Regions from separate parts of the Homo sapiens genome. Here region 2 is linked to region 1. The links come from fine-mapping of genetic effects on gene expression. A gene starts in region 1. The other region holds a variant in brackets. All regions are shown on one strand. Distances are from middle to middle.

Evidence for each region. PIP is the estimated chance that this variant, and not a neighbour inherited with it, causes the effect.
Region 2: its variant is the best candidate, but not a certain one, in a credible set for the expression of ACBD3 in prefrontal cortex (ROSMAP, PIP 0.52).

What each region holds. Positions count from the first base shown.
Region 1 is chr1:226,181,062-226,192,847 of GRCh38, forward strand. ACBD3 (acyl-CoA binding domain containing 3) reads right to left here and starts at 5,680. Exons shown (of 8, transcript NM_022735.4): 1 at 5,329-5,680. The coding sequence starts at 5,614. It overlaps LOC101927247 (a long non-coding RNA gene), which reads left to right and starts at 6,835. Exons shown (of 2, transcript XR_001738504.2): 1 at 6,835-6,872. It also overlaps the pseudogene RPL34P7. RefSeq lists enhancers at 864-1,364, 1,365-1,865 and silencers at 5,171-5,650, 5,287-5,581.
Region 2 is chr1:226,158,761-226,170,546 of GRCh38, forward strand. ACBD3 (acyl-CoA binding domain containing 3) reads right to left here. Exons shown (of 8, transcript NM_022735.4): 2 at 7,099-7,240; 3 at 6,029-6,169; 4 at 2,771-2,929; 5 at 424-598. Among named protein-coding and RNA genes, the nearest start is that of ACBD3-AS1, 17 kb to the left of the region's middle. RefSeq lists an enhancer at 5,093-5,262. The variant T/G (reference allele first, on the strand shown) is at 6,037.

The DNA.
Region 1 (11,786 bases):
AAGTTTTGGTTCAGCTCAAATTTAACATGAACTTGGTGGCTATAATTGTTTTTCTGTCTTACATCTGTCTCTCTTAGGTCTATATATCCTCCTACAGTATTACATACTTATGTCTAAAGGTAAAGATAATAAAAGGGAAAAAGAACTCTAATAGATGTTCCATAGTAACAAACTTGAAATTATCTGAGGATAGACCACTGAAGTCCAGGAGGCACACTAATTATATATGTTTCCAATGAATAAATTACAGCTGTACAGTATTTTAAAACATTAAGGAAGCCATTTATAAATGCTCTTGTAGTTGCCTATGTTTAAAGAAGACAAGAGGAAATGGAACCATTTCAGTTGTCCATTTGTTTGCTATCATTAATATAATTCTCTCCCAACATATAATACTCTACTATCAGTAACACAATTGGGTATAATCAATAGCAATGCTAGTAGAACTATTCCATAAAGAAAATGAGTCCAAGACTTACCTTCCAAATAACTGAGGGGCCTGAGGCAGGATCCTTAACTCAGAAATGGGATTAATACCCTTACAGAAGGCCTCTTGGAGGATTAAACAAAATAATGTACATACAGTTTTTGGCATAGTACCTGAGATTTAGTAAACATCTACTCAATAACTATTGACAATTATTACTCTGAAATCTTAAATTAATGTAAACAATCTACCAGCTTAATGTAATACAGTAATAAAGTATTAGAGAAGGAAAAGTCCACCCCAAAGAACTCTAAAAACCAAAATACAATTCCCCAGGTCAACTCCATCCAAGAAGTATAAAGGTCATAATAAAATGAACCCACTGGATTCCTGTGGGTCCTTAACCCATGGAGATAAGAAAACCTAGCTTAACATTGTTAAAATAGAACTGGGCAACTCTGGCCGGGCGTGGTAGCTCATGCCTGTAATCCCAGCACTTTGAGAGGCCAAGGCGGGTGAATCGCTTGAGCTCAGGAGCTAAAGACCAGCTGGGCAACAAAGCAAGACCTCTGTCTCTACAAAAAATACAAAAATTAGCCGGGCATGGTGGCTCGTGCCTGTGGTCCCAGTCACACAGGAGGATGAGGTGGGAGGATGGCTTGAGCCTGGGAGGCATAGGGGGCAGTGAGCCAAGATCGCACTACTGCCCTCTAGCCTGCATAACAAAACCAGACTGTCTAAAAAAAAAAAAAGAATTGAGCAACTTTGCTCCTCCCTTTAAAAACCTCCAGTGGTTCCTCATCTTCTAATTTACTGACAAAAAGGCCGAACTATTAATACTTACATGGCCAGGCGCGGTGGTTCACGCCTGTAATCCCAGCGCTTTGGAAGGCCGAGGCGGGGAGATCATTTGGGGTCAGTCCAAGACCAGACTGGCCAACATGGTGAAACCCCATCTCTATTAATAATACAAAAATTAGCTGGGTGTGGTGGCACAAGCCTGTAAGCTCAGCTACTCACGAGGCTGAGGCAGGAGAATCACATGAACCCAGGAGGCAGAGGTTGCAGGGAGTGGAGATCATGCCACTGCATTCCAGCCTGGGTGACATAGCAAGACTCCGTCTCAGAAAAAAAAAATGACAATGGCATGCAAGTCCTTCCAAGAATTGAACTCAGTTACCTTCCCAGCTCTCTCCATCAAACTGCTTTCTATTTTCCATTTTGCAAACAGACATGCTTTGACTTCTCATGGCTTTCATGGCTCTTGGCCTTCCCCCCTCTGGAATGGCATCTGCTCCCTCAGTCCTCCACACTGTACTGCAGTTGTCACTGGGTCCTTAACTCCTCTTTTGGACTCTAAGCAAAAGATAACGTACTATTCATTTATAGTTGTAACCTAATATAAAACTATCCATACTGAAAAGTCAATAATGTCTGAAATTTAGATGGTAAAATGCTAACTTACATTTACCCACATCTTCATCTATTTTACTTTTACTGTCATAAAAAATTAAGAATAGTTGACGTAATTGATTCAGTCACTGGCCTATTACCACCCTGACAAGGATGGAATAAGAAATAGGGCTTGTCATTTCCAACCCAAGCTATTTGCAATGGAAAAATATATCCATGCTTTCAAGATTCGTATTTATTCCACAGTGGAAGAGAAAATGTAATGTTCTTTCCTTTATTTATTTATTTTTTTGAGATGGAGTCTTGCTCTGTTGCCCAGGCTGGAGGGCAGGGACGAAATCTTGGCTCACTGCAAGCTCCGCCTTGAGGGTTCAAGTGATTCTCCTGCCTCAGCCTCCCAAGTAGCTGGGACTATAGGCGCCTGCCACCACGCCCAGCTAATTTTTTTATTTTTTTATTTTTAGTACAGATGAGGTTTCACCGTGTTAGCCAGGGTGGTCTCGATCTCCTGACCTTGTGATCCACCCGCCTCGGCCTCCCAAAGTGCTGGGATTACAGGCAAAAGCTACCACACCCGGCCGAAAATGTAATGTTATTTCTAATTCTCGTGAGATACTGGTATAAAACCATAGAATAGCGATTAAAAGTCCCAGCAAGACTGACAAAACACCATGTGTTCCACCAGAAAAATCCACACATTAAAACAAAGGTGCCGGGCACGGTGGCTCACGCCTATAATCCCAACACTTTGGGAGGCCAAGGTGGGCAGATCACCTGAGGTCGGCAGTTCGAGACCAGCATGGAGAAACCCCGTCTCTACTAGAAATACAAAAGTACCTGGGCGTGGTGGCACATGCCTGTAATCTCAGCTACTCGGGAGGCAGAGGCAGGAGAATCACTTGAACCCTCGAGGCAGAGGTTGCAGTGAGCTGAGATCGCGCCATTGCACTCTAGCCTGAGCAACAAGAATCAAACTCTGCCTAAAAAAAAAAAAAAAAAAAAAAACCAGGCTGGGCACAGTGGCTCACACCTGTAATCCCAGCACTTTGGGAGGCTGACGCAGGAGGATCACGAGGTCAGGAAATCGAGACCATCCTGGCTAACACGGTGAAACCTCGTCTCTACGAAAAATACAAAAAATTAGCCGGGCGTGGTGGTGGGCACCTGTAGTCCCAGCTACTCGGGAGGCTGAGGCAGGAGAATGGAGTGAATCCGGGAGGTGGAGCTTGCAGTGAGCCCCGAGATGGCACCACTGCACTCCAGCCTGGGCGACAGAGTGAGACTCTATCTCAAAAACAAAAAACAAAACAAAGGCAGCATTACTTGGCTCACTCCACATTCCATAATTCTTCTGACTGCTTTTACATCCTTCCCTTTTGTCAGTTAGTGTCTCATATACTAACAGTCTCCAATGACACATGCAGAAAGGTAGCTTTTAATTGCTACACAGCTATTTCTCCTTTTTAGTACCTGGATATTGCTTTGAGAACTTCATTTAGGAAGTGAGTGAACCACACCTATCAGTGTAGCTTTATTCTCTAAGGTGACTAACACCTAGGCCCCAAGTTATAAGTTTCCCCAGGATTCCTACCACTCAAGACACATGTTAAAATAATCTGTTAGGTTAAGACCACTGAATCTTAAATCTGAGACATCATATTTTATAGAATCCAGCTCCCTTTATACATATGAAACTGATTCTGGAAAAGTTAATTGTCTAGTTTACAAGGTAACTAGAATCCAGAGCTTCCTGACTCTCCAAACAATGTTAAGTATACTACACGTTACAGTGTTTTAATCTTTTTCTTTGTTTTGAGACAGAATTTCACTTTGTCGCCCAGGATGGAGTGCAGTGGCATGATCTCGGCTCACTGCAACCTCTGCCTCCCATATTGAAGCGATTCTTTTTTTTTTTTTAGACGGAGTTTTGCTCGTCGCCCAGGCTGGAGTACAATGGTGCCATCTTGGCTCACTGCAACCTCCGCCTCCCGGGTTCAAGTGATTCTCCTGCCTCAGCCTCCCTCAGTCCTGCAACAGAGCAGGACTCCAGCTCAAAAAAAAAAAAAAAAAGGAATTAGTTCATTTCTACTCTTACTCTCTGCTACAATATACTTTACTGAAAAATAAGTTCCAAGAATAAAAATTTAAGATGGAATGTAGCTATATGAATTGTACAGAAACCACCTGATTTTTATCAAGTGGTAATATATCATCACTACAGCAAACTCTAAATTCAAGCCGGTGATCTAAAAGTCAAATGATCCAAAACCCATTAGCCATTACCAATTCCCCAAGCTAGTTAGTACACAGAGGGCTCAACTCATTGTGCAATGACCACGAATATGTCATTGAATGTGAAATGATCAAATGTTCTGGAAAATTTATAAAACTTTCACTAGTTTGCACAATTAAAGTTATTTTGAGAGAAAACAACTTCCGTGTGTATCATTACATTGAACTACTCAACTTTGGCTAGTAAAATATGTACTCCAAAAGGTACTCCCTCTGGGGAAAGTGTCATAAATATGCTGCTCTGGAATGTACGTGGAACCTAGCAACCACTTTTAAAGTTGCATTTGCTGATGTCCCTCCCTGTCCATTCGCCCTACAAGACTAAGTATCTTTAAGAATCAAACTAACGGGCTTTCATCAGTTTTTCCCACTGACAAAAATCATGTGATTGGTCTCTCCACCATTCGACTAAGTGAATCACCCAATTAAAAAAAAAAAAAACCGCACACTACAATCTTGCTCTAAGACAAGAGACATTTAACAATTAATTATGCGAAAAGCACAGAAGGTACTGTTAGGCCTTACTCTGAGAATTCACTCTTGCACATTGCTTACAATGTAAAATTTTAACCACCTAGAAGTTACTAGAACATAGTGGACATCTCTCCTCAAGAGTTTGACAAGCCGGAGAGGATGATGAGCTTAACACTTTACTTCCTCCTCTCTGCCACATCAATCTGCCGGGGGATCAAGTCCTGTTCCAGTTTATGGTTCCCAAGAATGGCTGGAAAAGCTATGTATGGAACCTCTTGACAGATTTCTTCCACTAAGGGTAAAAATCGGCGGGTTCTGATGTGACAAGCCATGGGAAATAGGAAAAGAAAAGCGTCAGTTAAAAAAATAATAATAATAAAAGGCAATCCCAGAATGGGATCCTTTGGAAGAAAGTGGGCTCATTCTTCCACCAGGGCTCCTGGAAATCCCAGAAGCTAAATCAGGTAAAATGTCCCGGTAACCTCTGGGAGGCGGGACATGACTGCTAAACCAAGGTTGCAGGCCCGTCAGGGGTGTGACCTAGTGGCCAAGCGGGTAGTGACAAACTTCGGGTACCCCCAAGGAGGGAACCCCGCTTGAGTCACCACAGCCCAGTATGAGTGGGTGAGGGCAAGTCTGGTCCAGTCACCCTGGGGACCACAGCCCACGCCGGGCTCCCGGGGCCGGGCAGAAGCGGCGGGGGTGGGGCTGGCCCGGCTCACCTTTGAAGAAGCGCAGTGCCAGGCCGTACAACTCCTCCAGGCCGAAACCCCAGCGCTGCTCCAGCCGCCGCGCCTCCTCCGCCGCGCCCCCAGCCGCCGCCTCCCCGGGCTCGGGCTGCTCCCCTGAGGCGCCCGGGCCGCGACCGGATCCAGGTGGCGAGGGCGGTGGCAGCGGTGGCGGCAGCAGCGGGGCGCCCTCCGCCCCAGGCCGCTCCTCCGGGTCCGGGCTGAGCGTGAGGCCGTCGACGGACACCTCGAGTCGCTCTGCGTTCAGCACCGCCGCCATCTCCGGCTGCTGCACCTCCTCAGCGGGGACAGACGGCAGCCACGTATCGACTTCCTGCTGACCTCTGACCTCCGCTTACCGACACCGGAACTTCCGCTGCTGAGGAGGCTGGAGGGCTCCGGGAGAGGGGCTGAGGCCTGGCGCCCCACCCCCTCCGGAATCGTCAGTTGCCCTGGCTCAGCGACCACCCTTCAGGCTCCCCAACTCCCGTTGGTCCCGAACTCCCCTCCCCCGCACCCCATCCTTTCGGATCCCAGTTGCTCCAGGTGGGCGGGTGCTACCACCCCCACCGCTCGGTTCGGTGCTGCGGCTGTCAGTGCCCAGCAGGGGCGGGGTCAGTGGAGCCCCGCGCGGGGGTCGGAGTAGGGAGGATTGACGAGGTCGGCCAGCACCCAACCCTCCAGGTCAGAGGCCCTTCACATTTGCAGGGGCCTGCGTGGTTGGCAGAGCTCTTTTGCCCACCACCATCTCGTTTGGCCTTCACAGCAACTCTAAGGAAATGCAGGGCAAATTCCCAATTTTTTTAAAAGGGGAAACTGAGACTGCAGAGAAATTCAGTGACTTTGAGGTTGCAGACGGGGCTGATCCTGGTTTTGCAGGAAGCGCAGCTCATACAATTTGTGGGGACCCTCATTAGGAAAGAGTACAAAAAGTTACGCGCAGAAGGGTAGGAAAGTGAATGTATATTTAGAAAGAGAAAGAAAAAACAAATGATATTTTAAAAGTTAATAAAACCCACAAACATCACACACATAACCGTAATATTTTCATTGACTGCCTGATATTCTTCTACAGGGCGTCTGAGAGCCCAGAAACCTATTTTTTTCTAAAAGATTGAAGTCGCCCCCGACATTATGTATATTCACCTGTGTTTCCAGACTTTGGGAGCACCATTTATGATCATTTTTCCCACCTTTGTTTTGGCTGCGTACTTCTGATTGCCTTTTCCTATAACAATTATTTTGTAACTTTTTTTTTTTTTTTTTTTTTTTGTTTTTTGCAGACAGTCCTGCTGTGCCACCCAGGCTGGAGTGTAGTGGTGCAATTCGGTTCACTGCAACCTCTGCCTCCCGGGTTCAAGCAACTCTCCTGCCTCAGCCTCCCAAGTAGTTGGGATTACAGGTGCTCACCACCACGCCCGGCTAATTTTTGTAAACTTAGTAGAGTCAGAGTTTCCCCATGTTGGCCAGGCTGGTCTCAAACTCCTGACCTCATGTGATCTGCCCGCCTCAGCCTCCCCAAAGTGCTGGGATTACAGGTGAGAGCCACCGCGCCCGGCGTATTTTGTAATTCTCTATAAAGAAAAGAGAAAGATCAGTCTTTTCTCCAGCATGGCTGATTAAATTTGTTTCTTAATAATTGTTTATAAATTTATTTCAGCATCACAACTCATTACTGATATTGTTAACGTACTTTTTTAGGGTTATTGTTCAGTTTGGGAAACCTCTCTCAAGTTTCATGGATGTGCTATGAGATTTTTATGGCCGTTTGGCTGCTTCAGTGACAATTTTGTGTGTGGTTTTTACTGAAGCCCTAGAGAGTTTTTTTCTTTTTTTTGAGACGGAGTCTCTCTCTGTCGCCCACGCTGGAGTGCAGTGGCGCGATCTTGGCTCACTGCAAGCTCCGCCTCCAGGGTTCACGCCATTCTCCTGCCTCAGCCTCCTGAGTAGCTGGGACTATAGGTGCCCACCACCATGCCCGGCTAATTTTTTTGTATTTTTAGTAGAGACGAGGTTTCACCGTGTTAGCCAGGATGGTCTCAATCTCCTGACCTTGTGATATGCCCGCCTCGGCCTCCCAAAGTGCTGGGATTACAGGCGTGAGCCACCGCGCCTGGCCGAGGGTTTTTTTCAGGACAAGATTTGTATGCTGCATTCAGACAGGATCTCATTCATTACGGTGGATAAGACATATAACTTCACATACAGACAGACTCACTGTAGTACAACTATAAGTTTTTGTCCCATAAACATAGGGTTTCTAATCTATTCCCTTTTGCATGCTTCACATAAAAACATGAAGTATGGTGCAGTTATAATTGCAGATATGACTTAGATTCTCAGTGAGTGAGAACCTTCATTTTGATTAGGCATTGAGAGAATTGATCCCTCTCCTTATAATCTTCCACTTCTGATGGTTGGAAGCATATTTTTAAGTCTTTTAATTTTAATTACTCAAAGAAGCTTCATTTTTTATTTAGCTTTCTGACCCTGTGCTTGTGCCTTCAACACTCTCACAATGATTTTCTTTTCCTCGATAAGGAAAACATGCTTGATCCTGTCACAAACACATATAGCACACATGGAACCACCATAGGCCCTGCTGACATGGTTTTTTGTGTTTTGGACAATCTCATAAGACTTCGGGTCTTATAGCACGAACCCCTTGAAGTCTGCGTGGGTACACACCACAGTAGATTTTGGTGCTTTCCCAGCCTTCTTGGTATAAAGGTAAGCAATTATATTACCAGGGGTTCAGGACAGCCTAGTTTTATTAGAAGCTGTATTGTAGGAAAGCCTACAACAGTATGTCAAACGCTGGACCATTCTATGTGCCTATAGACAACATCCCCAGAAGAGGAAAAAGAATGGAAGAATTTTACTAGCTCTTTCTTTTCTTTCAAACCTTGTTGCTCCTCCACTACCCAAGTACTTCCTGTGTCAGGCAACATAGGGTTCCTTCGCCCTTTGGCCTTGCACTTTTGTGACATGGTGCTGGCTGAATTGACATAATGGGCAGTAGGTATATTCCAGAAAGCCATTCCTACACCCATGGTGAGCAATAATTTAAAAACATGCAGAAGTGACTGCAAACCACTTAAATGCATGCCACTGACCCCAAATTAAATGTATCCCTATTCATTGTCCCCTTAGCCAAATCCCCCACAAAGCCTATAGCCATTTCAATACCTCCTAACCAGAGGAGGATGACGAAGGGAAGTTAGAAACGAAGACAGAGGTCTTAAATATCTTACTCTCAAAACTGTTACAGAAGTGTATACTGCTAAGGCCGCTCTAAGGGCCTTGGGAGGGGCCTGTGTAAGCAAGGGGCCCTGAAGCTTGAGCTTCATTAACTTTATGGTAAACCCACTTCTAGTTGTAGAGGACTAAAAACTCTAATTCTACTGCTCTAAGGTCTGTGTTCTTCCCACTTAGCTTGGATCTTTATATTTAGCTTCATTAGCTTAAAAATATGCATATTATGTGCCTAACCTTCAAAATGTTATATATACATATATATTCCCCTGTGTTTTGCTCAGTGTTCTACCTTTAACATTCAATAACTGTTGGGATGATAATGAGTAGGGTAAATATAACCCTTCTTCATGAAATGCTAGATTCTGTTTTCCAAGTTTTCACGATAAGCATTTCTTTTGTAATCAGAAAAAAAGTTATTTTTTTAAAAAGTATACAATAATTATTAAAACCTATAGAATATACCTAGGAAGGTAGGTAAAATATGGTAATTAATTAATTACATGGACTTTTTATACAAAAATTAGCTGGGCGTGGTGGTAGGCACTTGTAATCCCAGCTGCTCAGGAGGCTGAGGCAGGAGAATTGCTTGAACCTGAGAGGTGGATGTTGCAGTGAGCCAAGATCACACCACTGCGCTCCAGCCTAGGTGATGGAGAGAGACTGTCTCAAAAAAAGACATACATTAAAAAAAATTATATGGACTTTTTTATTGTTTTGTAATTTAACATATTGAATATGGTTGGAAAACCCAAACATCCTCTAGACCAAGCATCTGAACCTCTTGCTAATCGAAACATCAAGGGCCATTGTGTAGGTGGTTGCCCTTAATGACTAAAAACATTAGGGGTTGGCACAGTGCGTCATGCCTGTAATCCCAGCACTTTGGGAGGCTGAGGCAGGAGGATTGTTCGAGCCCAGGAGTTTGAGAACAGCCTGGGCAGCATAGGAAGACCCTGTCTCTACAAAAAATAAAAAATTAGCTGGGCATGGTGGCATGTGCCTAGGGTCCAGCTACTTGGGAGGCTGAGGTGGAAGGATCACTTGAGCCTGGGAGGTCAAGGCTCCAGTAAACCATGATGGCGTCACTGCATTCCAGCCTGGGCGACAGAAGGAGACCCTGTTTCTAAAAAATAAAATTAAAAAATTAGAGAATATAACTTCGCTTTAACAGTTCACTGTGGGAGATGAGTTCCAGACACGCTCACCTGAATGTCTTATTAAACTGCAGATTCTGACTCAGTAGGTATAGAGGGAGGCCTGAGAGTATACATTTCTCATAAGCTTTCTGGTGATGCCGATGCTGCTGTCTACAGACCACACTTTGAATAGCAAGTCTAGGAAACGTGTTTTTCCCATGCTTTATTGAGTATAATTGTTGTATAATAAACTGCAAATATTAAAGTTTACAATATGATGAGTTTTGGCACAGGCATATACCTGTATAACCATTACCATAAAATAACAAACATCCATTACTGTTTTGTAATTCCTTCTTCCCCCAAGATTTTTCAATAGATCTTTGTTATAATGCACTTGTCACAGTAGAATCTAACTTACATAAACAGTTCAGCGCAACTATCTGTTTTTCTTTTCCTTTTTTTTTGAGACGGAGTCTCGTTCTGTCGCCCAGGCTGGAGTGCAGTGGCGCGATCTTGGCTCACTGCAAGCTCCGCCTCCCGGGTTCACGCCATTCTCCTGCCTCAGTCTCCTGAGTAGCTGGGACTACAGGCTCCTGCCACCACACCTGGCTAATTTTTTTGTATTTTTAGTAGAGACGGGGTTTCACCGTGTTAGCCAGGATGGTCTCAATCTCCTGACCTCGTGATGCGCCTGCCTTGGCCTCCCCAAGTGCTGGGATTACAGGCGTGAGCCACCGTGCCCGGCCAACTACCTGTTTTTCTATATCCCTGTCTTTTATATGTGAGGAGGCACACAGATTGATCAAAAAGGTGTATTTTTGAAAACTTTCAAATATCTTCTCCATGTCTGTTCTTTTATAAAAGAGGATACTTTTGGGTGTTCTGCCTATGGTGTACCCATTCTTTTATTCCTTTACTTTCTTAATAAACTTGCTTTCATTTAAAAAAAAAAAAAAGGATACTTTTTTTTTTTTTTTTGAGATGGAATCTCACTCTGTTGCCCAGGCCGGAGTGCAGTGGCGCGATCTCGGCTCACTGCAACCTCCGCCTCCTGGGTTCAAGCAATTCTCCTGACTCAGCCTCCTGAGTAGCTGGGATTACAAGAATGCACCACCAGCCAGGCGCGGTAGCTCACGCCTGTAATCCCAGCACTTTGGGAGGCCGAGGCGGGCAGATCGCGAGGTCAGGAGATCGAGACCATCCTGGCTAACACAGTGAAACCTCGTCTCTACTAAAAATACAAAAAATTAGCTGTGCGTGGTGGCGGGCGCCTGTAGTCCCAGCTACTCGGGAGGCTGAGGCAGGAGAATGGCTCGATCCCAGGAGGCGGAACTTGCAGTGAGCCGAGATCGCGCCACTGCACTCCAGCCTGGGTGACAGAGCAAGACTCCATCTCAAAAAAAAAAAAAAAAAAAAAAAGAAGAATGCACCACCATGCCCAGCTAATTTTTGTATTTTTAGTAGAGATGGGGTTTCACCATGTTGCCCAGGCTGGTCTCGAACCTCTGATCTCAGGTGATCTGCCTGCCTTGGCCTCCCAAAGTGCTGGGATTCCAGGCATGAGCCACCGCGCCCAGCCAAAAAAGGATACTTTCCAATCCGCAAACTTTGCTGTGTGAATTTCTTAAGCTCCATTCCATTCAATAATTTTCCACATGAAGTGTTTACCATTTCTGAAATGCTTTCTGAAATTTAGACTTTCCATTTGTTCTCTCCACATATTTTCATCTTTTCTGTAAATATCGTGGATCACTAGACAGGGACTGAGTTCAACTTTTTGTTTCCTGCTTTTTCTGGTGAACTAATAATCAGTACTCAGTAAAGTTTTGCAGTTAGTCTTATTTAGTAATGCAGTACCCTTTAGTAGTGAAAATTATTTTGTATTCCTTGACTGCAAGCACTTAGAGATCAAGGGGCATTTCCCTGGACTTCCACAGTCCCTAGCACAGGATAGGAAACATGGTAGGTGTTCAGAATGTCTTACTGAGTGAATGAATGAAGGTGTAATTACACTATTATGTACGATATCAGTTCAGCTCAACATACATGTAAGGA
Region 2 (11,786 bases), 22 kb before region 1:
AATCTAGCTCTGCAGAACCAGCCCATGGTCTTAGGGCAGGGGAGTCCTCCCACTGGAGGCTGTCCAAGCCTCTGACAATGCACTGCCTGAAGGACATCTCTGAACTATGGCTAGTTACTCAGGTCCTCATGTTCCAGGACCACTATTAGGGTCTATGCCAGACTCACAGTAAAGACACTCAACCCATACAACTCCCAAATACCCTTATGACAATATAACATCATCGGTTGCTTCGATAACACATATTTTCTCTCACAATTGCCTGTGCAATTCTCAAGTCTGCCTAAAAGATCACCCAAAAGTTACTTTACACCTTAGAGGCTAACTAATGCAAAATTCATTTGCGACTGTTAAAAAAGAACTTGGGTTCCAATGAAACTAAAAACTCTCTCTAAGGCTGAATTCTAGGGTTGTCTATCGTACCTGTTGCTGTGCAAGCTGGACTTGATACAACTGCTGCATGTACTGCTGATAGTGTTGCTCCTGCAACTGGCGGATGAGAATTTGCTGCTGTTCGTAGTTCCCTGGATACTGTTGGGCTGCATACTGCTGGAACTGCACGGCAGTCTGGGAGTTTAAAGCTGCCATTATCTGCTGCCTAAAAACATTAAAAATATATATACTAGTCTGGCTACAGGAGATTGTTCATGACAAAATAAAATGTCCTTATTACTTACTTTTACAGTCTGTAACTCTTAAAAACAACTAAGCTAGTAATGTACACCAATTAGTATGTGTTCTGGGTCCAGAAGAAAGATTTAAGAAAATAAGCCTGGCCTCTAATTTTTTACTTAGGATTTTCCAGGAAAATTCGGGATGGAAGATAAGCATATGATCATCATCATCATGACCACCATCATAATTATTAACATTTATTGTGCCCTTACTATGTGCCATGCAGTGTTGAAAGTACTCACACATACTAACCCATTTAGTCCTCACAACAACCCTCTGACAGAGGGTTCAGTAACTTGCCCAAGACTATACTGCTAGCAGATGCTACAGCCTGATGCAAATCCAGGCAGTTTGGCTCTAGAGCTACACTAATTTACCACGATGCTTTAAGATGATGGATTGTCATCTCTGACATAGATGAGGTATTTAACTGTTGGCTATGGCTTCTGTACCTAAATACATAAAAAACAGTAAGAGGCAGAAGAATAGCTGGAAGATGTTACAGGTGGCCCTGGTAAGTATAAATAAAGCCAGTGAAAAATTAAGGGTCCACAGCATTTAATTTAAAGCCTGTCTTAATAGAGGAAATACTGAAAATATCTTGGCATGCTTAGTTTAGAGATACTCATATTCTTTTATAGATAAACCACATGCTTCTTCTTTTTTTTTTTTTTGAGACGGAGTTTCACTCTGTCACCCATGCTGGAGTGCAGTGGCGTGATCTCAGCTCACTGCAACCTCCACTTCCTAGGTTCAAGCGATTCTCCTGCCTCAGCCTCCCAAGTAGCTGGGATTACAGGCACCTGCTACCACGCCTGGCTAATCTTTATATTTTTAGTAAAGACGGTTTCACCATGTTGGCCAGGCTCGTTTCAAACCCCTGACCTCAATCAAGTGATCCGCCCGCCTCGGCCTCCCAAAGTGCTGGGATTACAGGCATGAGCCACCACAGCCAGCAACCACATGCTTCTTAACTTACTTATGTGACCAACTTAACAGAGACCTCAAAGCCATCTATTAATAGATAACAAAGCAAAGCCTCACAAACTCCTACATACAGCACAACATTCGATCCACCTAGGACAACCTCCCCCAAAAAAGAGCTGCATTCATAGTCTTTCTCCAAAGTTGAATGAGGGCCTGGATTAGTTTGAGGCTAGCACTAAACCTTTTTCTGAGGAACTACCCAGAAATAATGAGAAGAAATCAATGGACTCTCATGTTCTCTGGTTTAACCTACAAGCCATGCCACCCCTACAAACTCAGACTTACTTCCCAGTGTTTTATGGGTGTTAATCACTGCCTCCTTGTACCCACAGCTCCCTCTTGAAGAACCTGTCAGTCTCTGAGTCTCAAAGCCCTTACTGAGTAAGCAATAGTTGAAGCCTCCAAATCTTGTACTAAGGACTATAAATGGATATCTGACATAGACTGGACCAACAAGATTCTCTGTCCTGGGAAACTGCAACTGGGTCTCACAGATTCCAGCCAGTCTCTGTCAGATGCATGGAAACATAGACCAAATAAATCCTCGGACAGCCTTGCATATGCCAAAGCAGACAGTTGACAATTTGCAGAGAGCAAGGATGAAGCAGAGACATAAGCTGAGAGAAGCAGAGACAAGAAACAGAGAGCGCAACCAAGCAACCTCAGCTCCTGCTTCCAATCTCTGGGTTCTGCAAGTGAACCCCCAAACCTTCTAATACATTCCTTTTTTTTTTTGAGACGGAGTTTCACTCATTACCCAGGCTGGAGTGCAATGGCGCGATCTCGGCTCACTGCAACCTCCACCTCCTGGGTTCAAGAGATTCTCCTGCCTCAGCCTCCTGAGTAGGTGGGATTACAGGCATATGCCACTGCGCCCAGCTAATTTTTTGTATTTTTAATAGAAACAGGGTTTCACTGTGTTAGCCAGGATAGTCTCCATCTCCCAACCTCAGGTGATCTCCCAACCTCAGGTGATCTGCCCGCCTCCGCCTCCCAAAGTGCTGGGATTACAGGCGTGAACCACCACACCTGGCCCGCTCATTTCTTATTTTTATTCTATTTTTTTTCCATTTCTCATTTTAAAACATAAGCCACATAATAAACTTACTTTTGCTGCTCCAACCGAAGCCTTTCTTCTTCTATCCGTCTCCTTTCCTCTTCCTCCCGTCGAAGCCTTTCCTCTTCTTCTCTCCTACGTTTCTCTTCCTCCTTTTGCAGACGTTCTCTTTCTTCCTCTTCACGCCGCCTTCGCTCCTCTTCCTCCTTCCTACAAGGCAAAGATAGAGAATGAACCCTATACGTTGAATCCTGTTTAAAAATAAAACTTTAGCTCCCAGGGAAAACTGACATGACCTTTTTAGAGAACAATGTGGATATATACATCAAAATTTAAAATACATACACTTTACTAGCAGAAACTTATAGGGAATCAATCGCACAATATACAAATCACATCAAGAATAATTATTGTTGCACAGCAACAGAAATGTGTCCATCATAAGAAACTACTTAAGTCATTATGATATTCCTATACCCTGAAGGATCCCCTCTAATATATGCTCACAGCACTAAAAGCTTTTCCTTCATAATACCTGCTGTCATTATAATTAAATTTGTGTGATACATTCAGCAATAGATCTGCATTACCCATTAAACTAGATGCTCCATAGGGGAAGAGACTGCCTATCTCACACCACGACATCCTCAGGGCTTAGCACAGTGCTGGAAAGAACAAGCACTCGACAAACGTGTACAGAAGTAAAAAATCCACCCTGAAATATCGCAGAGCCAAAGGATAGAAATACATTGCCTAATATGTAAAGACATGTAATACACTTGCTTAATGAAAAAAAAAAAGGTGAATACAAAGGAAAAGATCTGGAAGGACATACCCTAAATTTATCAGTTATTATCTATGCAGAGGAGAGTGGAATTAAAAGAAATGTGGGAAAAAAGATTTTTTTCAGTTTGTGTTTCATATACTGCCATAAATGAAAATTTTATATTGCATATATTTGTGTATTATTTCTGAAATTAAAATTTTTTGTAAAGCTTTTAATTTAAAAAAGAACGGTTAACCTCTCAGGGCAGCCCTTGCCCAGCTTTCACCCACCCCACAAGACCCTTCCAAAAAGAACAGATCCTATTGTGCTAGGAATGGACATCTTCCGGGTCTGAGAGTGGTATGGTGTTCAGGGAGCCTGCAGACAGGATGAAAGGGAAGATTTCTAAGGAGTATCAGATAAGACACTATTTCATAAACCTACCACGAGAATTGTCTGGGCTACCTCACCTTTCTCCCCTCTAACTCCTATAAGTGATTAACAACTACCTGAGCCACAGCCAAGTCTCAAAATATTGTAATAACATGACCTATTTTTTTTTTTTTTTTGAGACAGGGTCTCACTCTGTCACCCAGACTGGAGTGCAGTGGCACATTCTTGGCTCACTGCAACCTCCGCCTCCCAGGCTCAAATGATCCTCCCACCTTAGCCTCCTGAGTAGCTGGAATTACAGGGACCTGTAACCACATCCGGCTAATTTTTGTATTTTTTTTTTGTAGAGATGGGGTTTTGCCACGTTGCCCAGGCTGGTCCTGAACTCTTGGACTCAAGTGATCTGCCCGCCTCGTTCTCCCCAAGTGCTGAGATTACAGATGTGAGCCACCACAGGCGTGAGCCACTGCACCCGGCCATGACCTACTTTTAATGTGTCACAGCTGGTACAGAGCAAGAAGGTTCACAAGCCAGAGCTTAAGCTTCAGGATAGATGAAGTCTACTCTTAAACACTTTAAAATAATTCTATGTGGACTTTATCCCATGACAAAAGTATATTTTTAAAACGAAAACGCAGCTCTATATGTTGAGTAGTAACTTTTGACAATGCTTAAGAGAAATATGCATATATATCATTAAAATAAGAACTTAAAAAGCAATATATAGATACTTCTACAGACACCCTAGCGATACCTGATTGATCCAACATCACTACACAATGGACTGTAGGACATAAATCAATTTTCCAGTTAAAGAAATCTCATTCTTTTCTCATAAGAATCAAAACCTTTCCTTTAGATTAAAAAAAAAAATTTCTTTGGATAAATATCTTCTGAAAATGTAATCAAGCAATTTCCTATTATCTTAAATAGGAATAAATCATATCTAATGTTCCATCTCTTGATAACTCAGGGGTTACAGCTGTAAACATAAAAATTGTACATCATACTATTGTAATGGAGAAGTTTACCTTCATATTAAATGACCCCTGACTGCCATGCTTTTATAATTCTCGTGTCTATTTTTCATGCTTTCTATTATGTCCCTAATTATCAAGCTATTTTCTCTTCTAATCTGTTATTTCTAATCCAGGTTAAGGTAGGAAACCAGAGAATCAATTGTTTTTAAAGAATAACATCGGCTGGGCAAGGTGGCTCATGCCTGTAATCCCAGCACTTTGGGAGGACCAGGCGGGTGGATCACCTGAGGTCAGGAGTTTGAGACCAGCCTGGCCAACATAGTAAAACCTCATCTCTACTAAAAACACAAAAATTAGCTGGGTTGGTGGCAGGCACCTGTAATCCCTCTCCCAGCTACTCGGGAGGCTGAGGCAGGAGAACTGCTTGAACCCAGGAGGCAGAGGATTGTGTCACTGCACTCCGGCCTGAGCAATAGCAACAGAGCAAGACTCCATCTTAAAAAAAAAAAAAAAAAAAAAAAAAAAGTATAACATAACCTGAAGAAAAATTGGTTTTGTAGCATCATTTTCATCACCTAAAATTTTAGATAGTCAAAATTGATGAAAATATAGCCACTAGAAAAATAAGGTGTAACTATAATTCTAATTCACAACTACAACAGAGAATCCCATAAGCATAAACAGCACATTCAGTAGCTCCTCCTCCAAAACTTGAAAATAATCAATAAGCCAGCTGGAAGCCAAAGCCAACATGAATGTCTATATAAGGTAGCATAGTTGCAAACCATGAAATGGAGCATGAGGATTCTAGAAGCTCGAGGGAGACTGCAACAAAGGGTATGTCAGACCAGAGGATAGGGAGGAGGGAGTGGTTGAGTTTATGGTGGGGCTTATTCAGAAACTTAGTGTAATAAAACAAAAGGAAGGCTGCCATGATGGATGGGAGGTTCCTTTTAAAGGCACGGCCAGTAGGAAGCAGTCCTCCCTCCCCCCAAAACTTATAATACAAGTACCTGTTCACATCAGGAAGTTTGAACAATTGCCACAAGAAATGGGGATCCAAGGAAAGCAAGACACCTGATCTAGAACTAGAACAGACACTCTACAAAACAAAAGCATCAGTACACTGGGCTGCGCAGCAATAAAGTATTCCATGCCCTCAAACTTCACCTTTTTTT[T/G]TCTTGCTCTTCCTTCTCTATTTTGTGGGACGCAACATATGTTGAAAAGAGATGGCAACACCTATTTAAGAGCTTGACAAACTCCACCATGGCATCCTCTTTAGACATGTTTCCCAGGGCTGCCCATTCTCTCCTGTAAGGAATAACAAGAAAAGTTACCTCCCCTTCTTAGTAGAATGAGAACTTTTAAATTTAAACCTAAATATGAATAATTCTCAATTGTAAGTAAAATGAATGATTCTATTGGGAGCAAAAGGCTCAAAACTTCAAGTTTTAACAAGTATGTATTGATTTACTAAATTAGATACGCCACATACAATCCAAACAACTGCATTGCTGATGATTCCCATATAGCAAAAGAGTATCAATTTTTCTTTTTTCTTTTTTTTTTTGAGATAGGATCTCACTCTGTTGCCCAGACTGGAGTGCACTGGTGCGATCTTGGCTCAGCAGAACCTCTGCCTCCCAGGCTCAAGCGATTCTCCTGCTTCAGCCTCCCGAGTAGGTAGGATTACAGGCATGTGCCACTACCGCCGGCTAATTTTTTAATTTTTAGTAGAGATGGGGTTTTACTATGTTGGCCAGGCTGGTCTTGAACTCCTGACCTCAAATGATCTACCCACCTCGGCCTCCCAAAGTGCCGGGATTACAGGCATGAACTGCCGCACCTGGCCTATTTTTCTTATATAATATTTGAGCCTTAATTAAACAAAAATACTCAATGTATTCTTTTTTTGTCACAATTTTTTTTATGCCTCAATAAGGGAATCAATTACTATATATTTTAAATGGCTACTTTTAATATTATTTGGGAAGAATCAAATGAAGCTCTACTTGTCTTATGTTCATAAGCAGATGAATACAGTTCTTCCACAATATTTAACCATAAACATCTCTAAGCTAAAAACAGATAAATATCTGAAGACTCCAGAAGCTGCAAGCAAAAATGTTCAGTTCTTATCCTAAGCTAATGAACCAGCTACTTACACCTTAACCAATACACATTGTACCCTTTGCCAACATTATCCTCATTAAATTCACTATACAGAAAAACACTGTTACCTCCTGTCATTCCCCAACACATCAAAGAATCCAACCTCAGGACAAGTGTCTGGATTATATGGGCCCATAAGAACTTGCTTATGCAGTGCCACAAGCTTCAATTTTTCTTCATAAGTTGGATGAAATGCTTTGCCATCTTTTTCTATAAGAAAAAGAAACACAAAGAAAACAATTAGCACAGGCAAAATACATAATTTTCAGCATTATATACTAAAGCTTTGCTACAAAGCATGTCACAAACTGCCTGTAATAGACACAAACACTAATAGTGAAATTTTTATTTCAATTACTACTTTTAAAAAATTTTTTTATTTTTAGACAGAGTCTCACTCTGTTGCCCAGGCTGGAGTGCAATGGTGTGATGAAGGCTCACTGAAGCCTTGACCTCCGGGACTCAAATGACCCTCCCACCTCAGCCCCCCAAGTAGCTGGACTACACGTGCGTGCCACCAAACCTGTCTTTTGGCAGAGACAGGGCTGCCCAGGCTGGTCTCGAACTTTTGGGCTCAAGCAAGCCTCTCGTCTTGGCCTCCTTTTCAAAACTGCTGGGATTTGAGCCAGCATGCCCAGCCCAATTACTACATTTTATTAATAACAGAACCTAAGACGGAAATCCGGTATGCTGATTTTTTTTTTTTTTTTTTTGAGACAAGGTCTCGCTCTATTGCCCAGGCTGGAATGCAGTGGCACAATCACAGCTCACTGCAGCCTCAACCTGCTGAGCTTAAGTGATCCTCCCACCTCAGTCACCCAACTACCTGGGACTACAGGAGTATGCGCCATCATACGTGGAAAATGTTTTTATTTTTGTAGAGACAAGGTCTCACTATGTTGCCCAGGCTGGTCTCGGACTCCTGAGCTCAAGTGATTCTCCCGTCTCAGTATCCCAAAGTGCTGGCATTACAAGTGTGGACCACCATGCCTACCCTGAATTAGGTTGTAAAAATAAGCCAACTATCAATACTTATGCTAAAGCTACTACAGAAAAACCCATCTGTCAAGCTGCAGTCAGGCTACAGCCTTGACCTCCCAGGCTTAAGCAATCCTTCTGCCTCAGCCTCCCGAGAAGCTGGGACTACAGGCATGTGCCACCACATCTGGTTAATTTTTTACTTTTTGCAGAGACGATGTCTTACAATGTTGCCCAGACTGGTCTTGAACCCTGGGTTCAAGCAATCCTCCTGCCTCAGCCTCCCAAAGTGCTGGGATTACAGGTGTGAGCCACCATGCCCAGCCCAACAATCGGTTTTTAAAATAGCTTTTAAAAATAATTTTTAGCCAAAAGAGAAAAGAAAAACTTAAAATAATTTTACATTAGTCCCTTTTAACATGATCATGCATAGAAGATTATGTACACTTTGAAAGGCTGTATTCAAAAATGTATCCATCCCACTAAGGTAGTATAATGTGGTGGAAAAGGCTTTGGAATTGGATGGCCTGGGTTTAAATCTCAGCTGAGACACTTCCTAGCTATGTGACTATTTAACCTCTCAGTTTATTCATCAATAAAGAAAGGGTTACCCTTCAGAGGTTGCTACTTCAGAGGTAATAGGATTATTATTATTACTAACTTATTAATGCTTTTCTTTCCTTCACCTGATTGGCTCTGGTAGGTTTCCATATAGGCAATTAAGAGTGCGACCAGTTTGACCAATAAAGACTAACTGCTACCAACATTTAAAAGCCGTATGAAATTGGGTTCTGGTAAAATGGGAAATATTCAGAGAACAGTTCCACTTCTTTGATAAATGGTAGCACTAACTACTGGTTGATTCCAATGACAACAGACTACCAAATTTAAAGAAAACGGGGAGGGCACTTGAAAGTAGCATATGCTACTTATATGTCTCATTCATGTATATAGTGGTGAAATAAAATCACTAATAAGTGAGAAGAATATGGGTTAAAGAACAGCAGGAAACTCAGAGAAGAAAAAATATAGAAGCTGCCAATAAACATCCAAAAAGATATTCAACCCCACTAGTCAAGAAATATAAATTAAAAGCATTAGATACCAAGACCCCCACCTCCCATCAGATAAACAAAAAAGTTAGATAACATCTAAAGTTATTAAGATCCTACAAACAGGTACCCATTCTCATATATGAATGCTGAAAGTATAAACTGTTATAGTTACCTTGAAGGTCAATTTGGCAATACACAATAGTCCTTATCTTATCCCCCAGTGGATGTTTAAGACTGCAGATAATATTGAACCCTACATATATTATGTTTTTCCTAAATGTACATACCTGTAATTTATAAATTAGATACAATAAGAGATTAACAATAAAATACTGTATTATATTTGTATATTGTAATTATATAACAATATACAACAACAAGTTATGTGAATGTGGGATCTCTGTCTCTCTCAAAATATCTGAATGTATTCTACTCACCTATTTTCAGACCTTGATTAACCCCGGGTATCTGAAAGAAGGGAAAGCAAAACCATGGACAAGGAGAGACTCCTGTATTTCAAAACTATAAATGTGTATGCCCTATGATCCAGTCATTCCAGTTCTCATTACATATGCTTGACAAGCACTCTCAAATATATAAAAGGAGGCAGATACAAGGACATTCATTGCAGCACTATTTTCTTGTTACTGGAAATAACTTAAAAGGTTATCAATAAGGGAAAGTCGAAACAACATGGTACAGTCATGCTCTGCATAATGGCATTTCAGTAAAGGACAGATTGTTTATATGAGTGTAGTCCCATAAGATTATTATAATGGAGCTGAAATTTTCCTATGGCCTAGTGGTGTGGTAGCCACCATAACATGATGCAACATATAACTCAAGTATTTACGATGATGCTGGCGTTAAACTAACCTACTGTGCTGCCAGCTGTATAAAAGTATATATAGCACATACAACACATAATACTTGATGACATTAATCATCAAATACTTGATAAGGATATTAATCACCAAAAGTTTTCTTACACTACGTCACAGGTAATTATTAGAGAAACACAGCCCAGAACAACTTCCTTCTCACTTTTTATTTGAGACGGAGTCTCGCTCTGTTGCCCAGGCTGGAGTGCAGTGAGTGGCACAATCTCGACTCACTGCAGCTTCCGTCTCTTGGGTTCAAGTGATTCTCCTGCCTCAGCCTCCCAAGTAGCTAGGACTACAGGTGTGCGCCACCATACCCGGCTAGTTTTTATATTTTTAGCAGAGATGGGGTTTCACCATGTTAGCCAGGCTGGTCTCCAACTTCTGACCTCAGGTGATCCACCCATCTCAGCCTCCCAAAGTATTGAGATTACAGGCGTGAGCCACTGTGCCCACCCCCTTCTCGCTTTTAACAAATGGCGATAATTTGAAAAATAGCTCCAGCTCCTGATCTTAGCCTTGTGATTTAGAGAGTTTTTTTTTATTTTTATTTTTTTTCTCGAGACAGAGTCTCGCTCTGTCACCCAGGCTGGAGTGCCGTGGTGCGATCTCGGCTCACTGCAAGCTCTGCCTCCCGGGTTCACGCCATTCTCCTGCCTCAGCCTCCCGAGTAGCTGGGACTACAAGCGCCCGCCACCATGCTCGGCTAATTTTTTTTGTATTTTTAGTAGAGACGGGGTTTCACTGTGTTAGCCAGGATGGTCTCGATCTCCTGACCTCGTGATCTGCCCGCCTCGGCCTCCCAAAGTGCTGGGATTACAGGCATGAGCCACCGCGCCTGGACTGCCTGGCTATTTTTTTTTTTTTTTTTTTTTTTTGGGATTTTTAGTAGAGATGGGGTTTCACTGCTTTAGCCAGGATGGTCTCGATCTCCTGACCTCGTGATCGGCCTGCCTCGGCCTCCCAAAGTGCTAGCATTACAGGCGTGAGCCGAGTTTTTGTTTTTTAAAACAAAAAAAAAAAAGGGCATTAAGCAGCCGGGCACAGTGGCTCACACCTGTAATCCCAGCACTTTGGGAGGCCAAGGCAGATGGATCACCTGAGGTCAAGAGTTCGAGATCAGTCTGGCCAACATGGCAAAACCCTCTCTCTACTAAAAATACAAAAACTAGCTGGGTGTGGTGGTACAGCACATCTGTAATCCCAGCTACTCAGGGAGCTGAGGCAGGAGAATCGCTTGAACGAGATGGAGGTTGCAGCGAGCCTAAATCATACCACTGCACTCCAGCCTAAGAAACAGAGCGAGATTCCATCTCAAAAAAAAAAAAAAAAAAAAGACATTAACCTGTGTCATTTTATCTTGAGCCTATAAAAGAACATATGCTGCCAATGATTCAAGAAAAAAAGATGTGGTGGGCCTGAGACTGAGAGTGCATTTTTCCTTTCCTTTTTTTTTTTGGTTTTTTTTTTTGAGACGGAGTCTCACTCTGTCACCCAGGCTGGAGTGCAGTGGCATGATCTCGGTTCACTGCAAGCTCTGCCTCCTGGGTTCACGCCATTCTCCTGCCTCAGCCTCCCGAGTAGCTGGGACTGCAGGCGCCCGCCACCACGCCCAGCTAATTTTTTGAATTTTTTTTTTTTTTTTTTTTTTAGTAGAGACGGGGTTTCACCATGTTACCCAGGATGATCTCGATCTCCTGACCTCGTGATCTGCCCACCTGGGCCTCCCAAAGTGCTGAGATTACAGACGTGAGCCACCGTGCTCGGCCTTTCTTTTTTTAAGAATAAACTCAATTAAGTAGTTTTATCTAAATAAATGTCAGTAAAGATAAAATCACATGG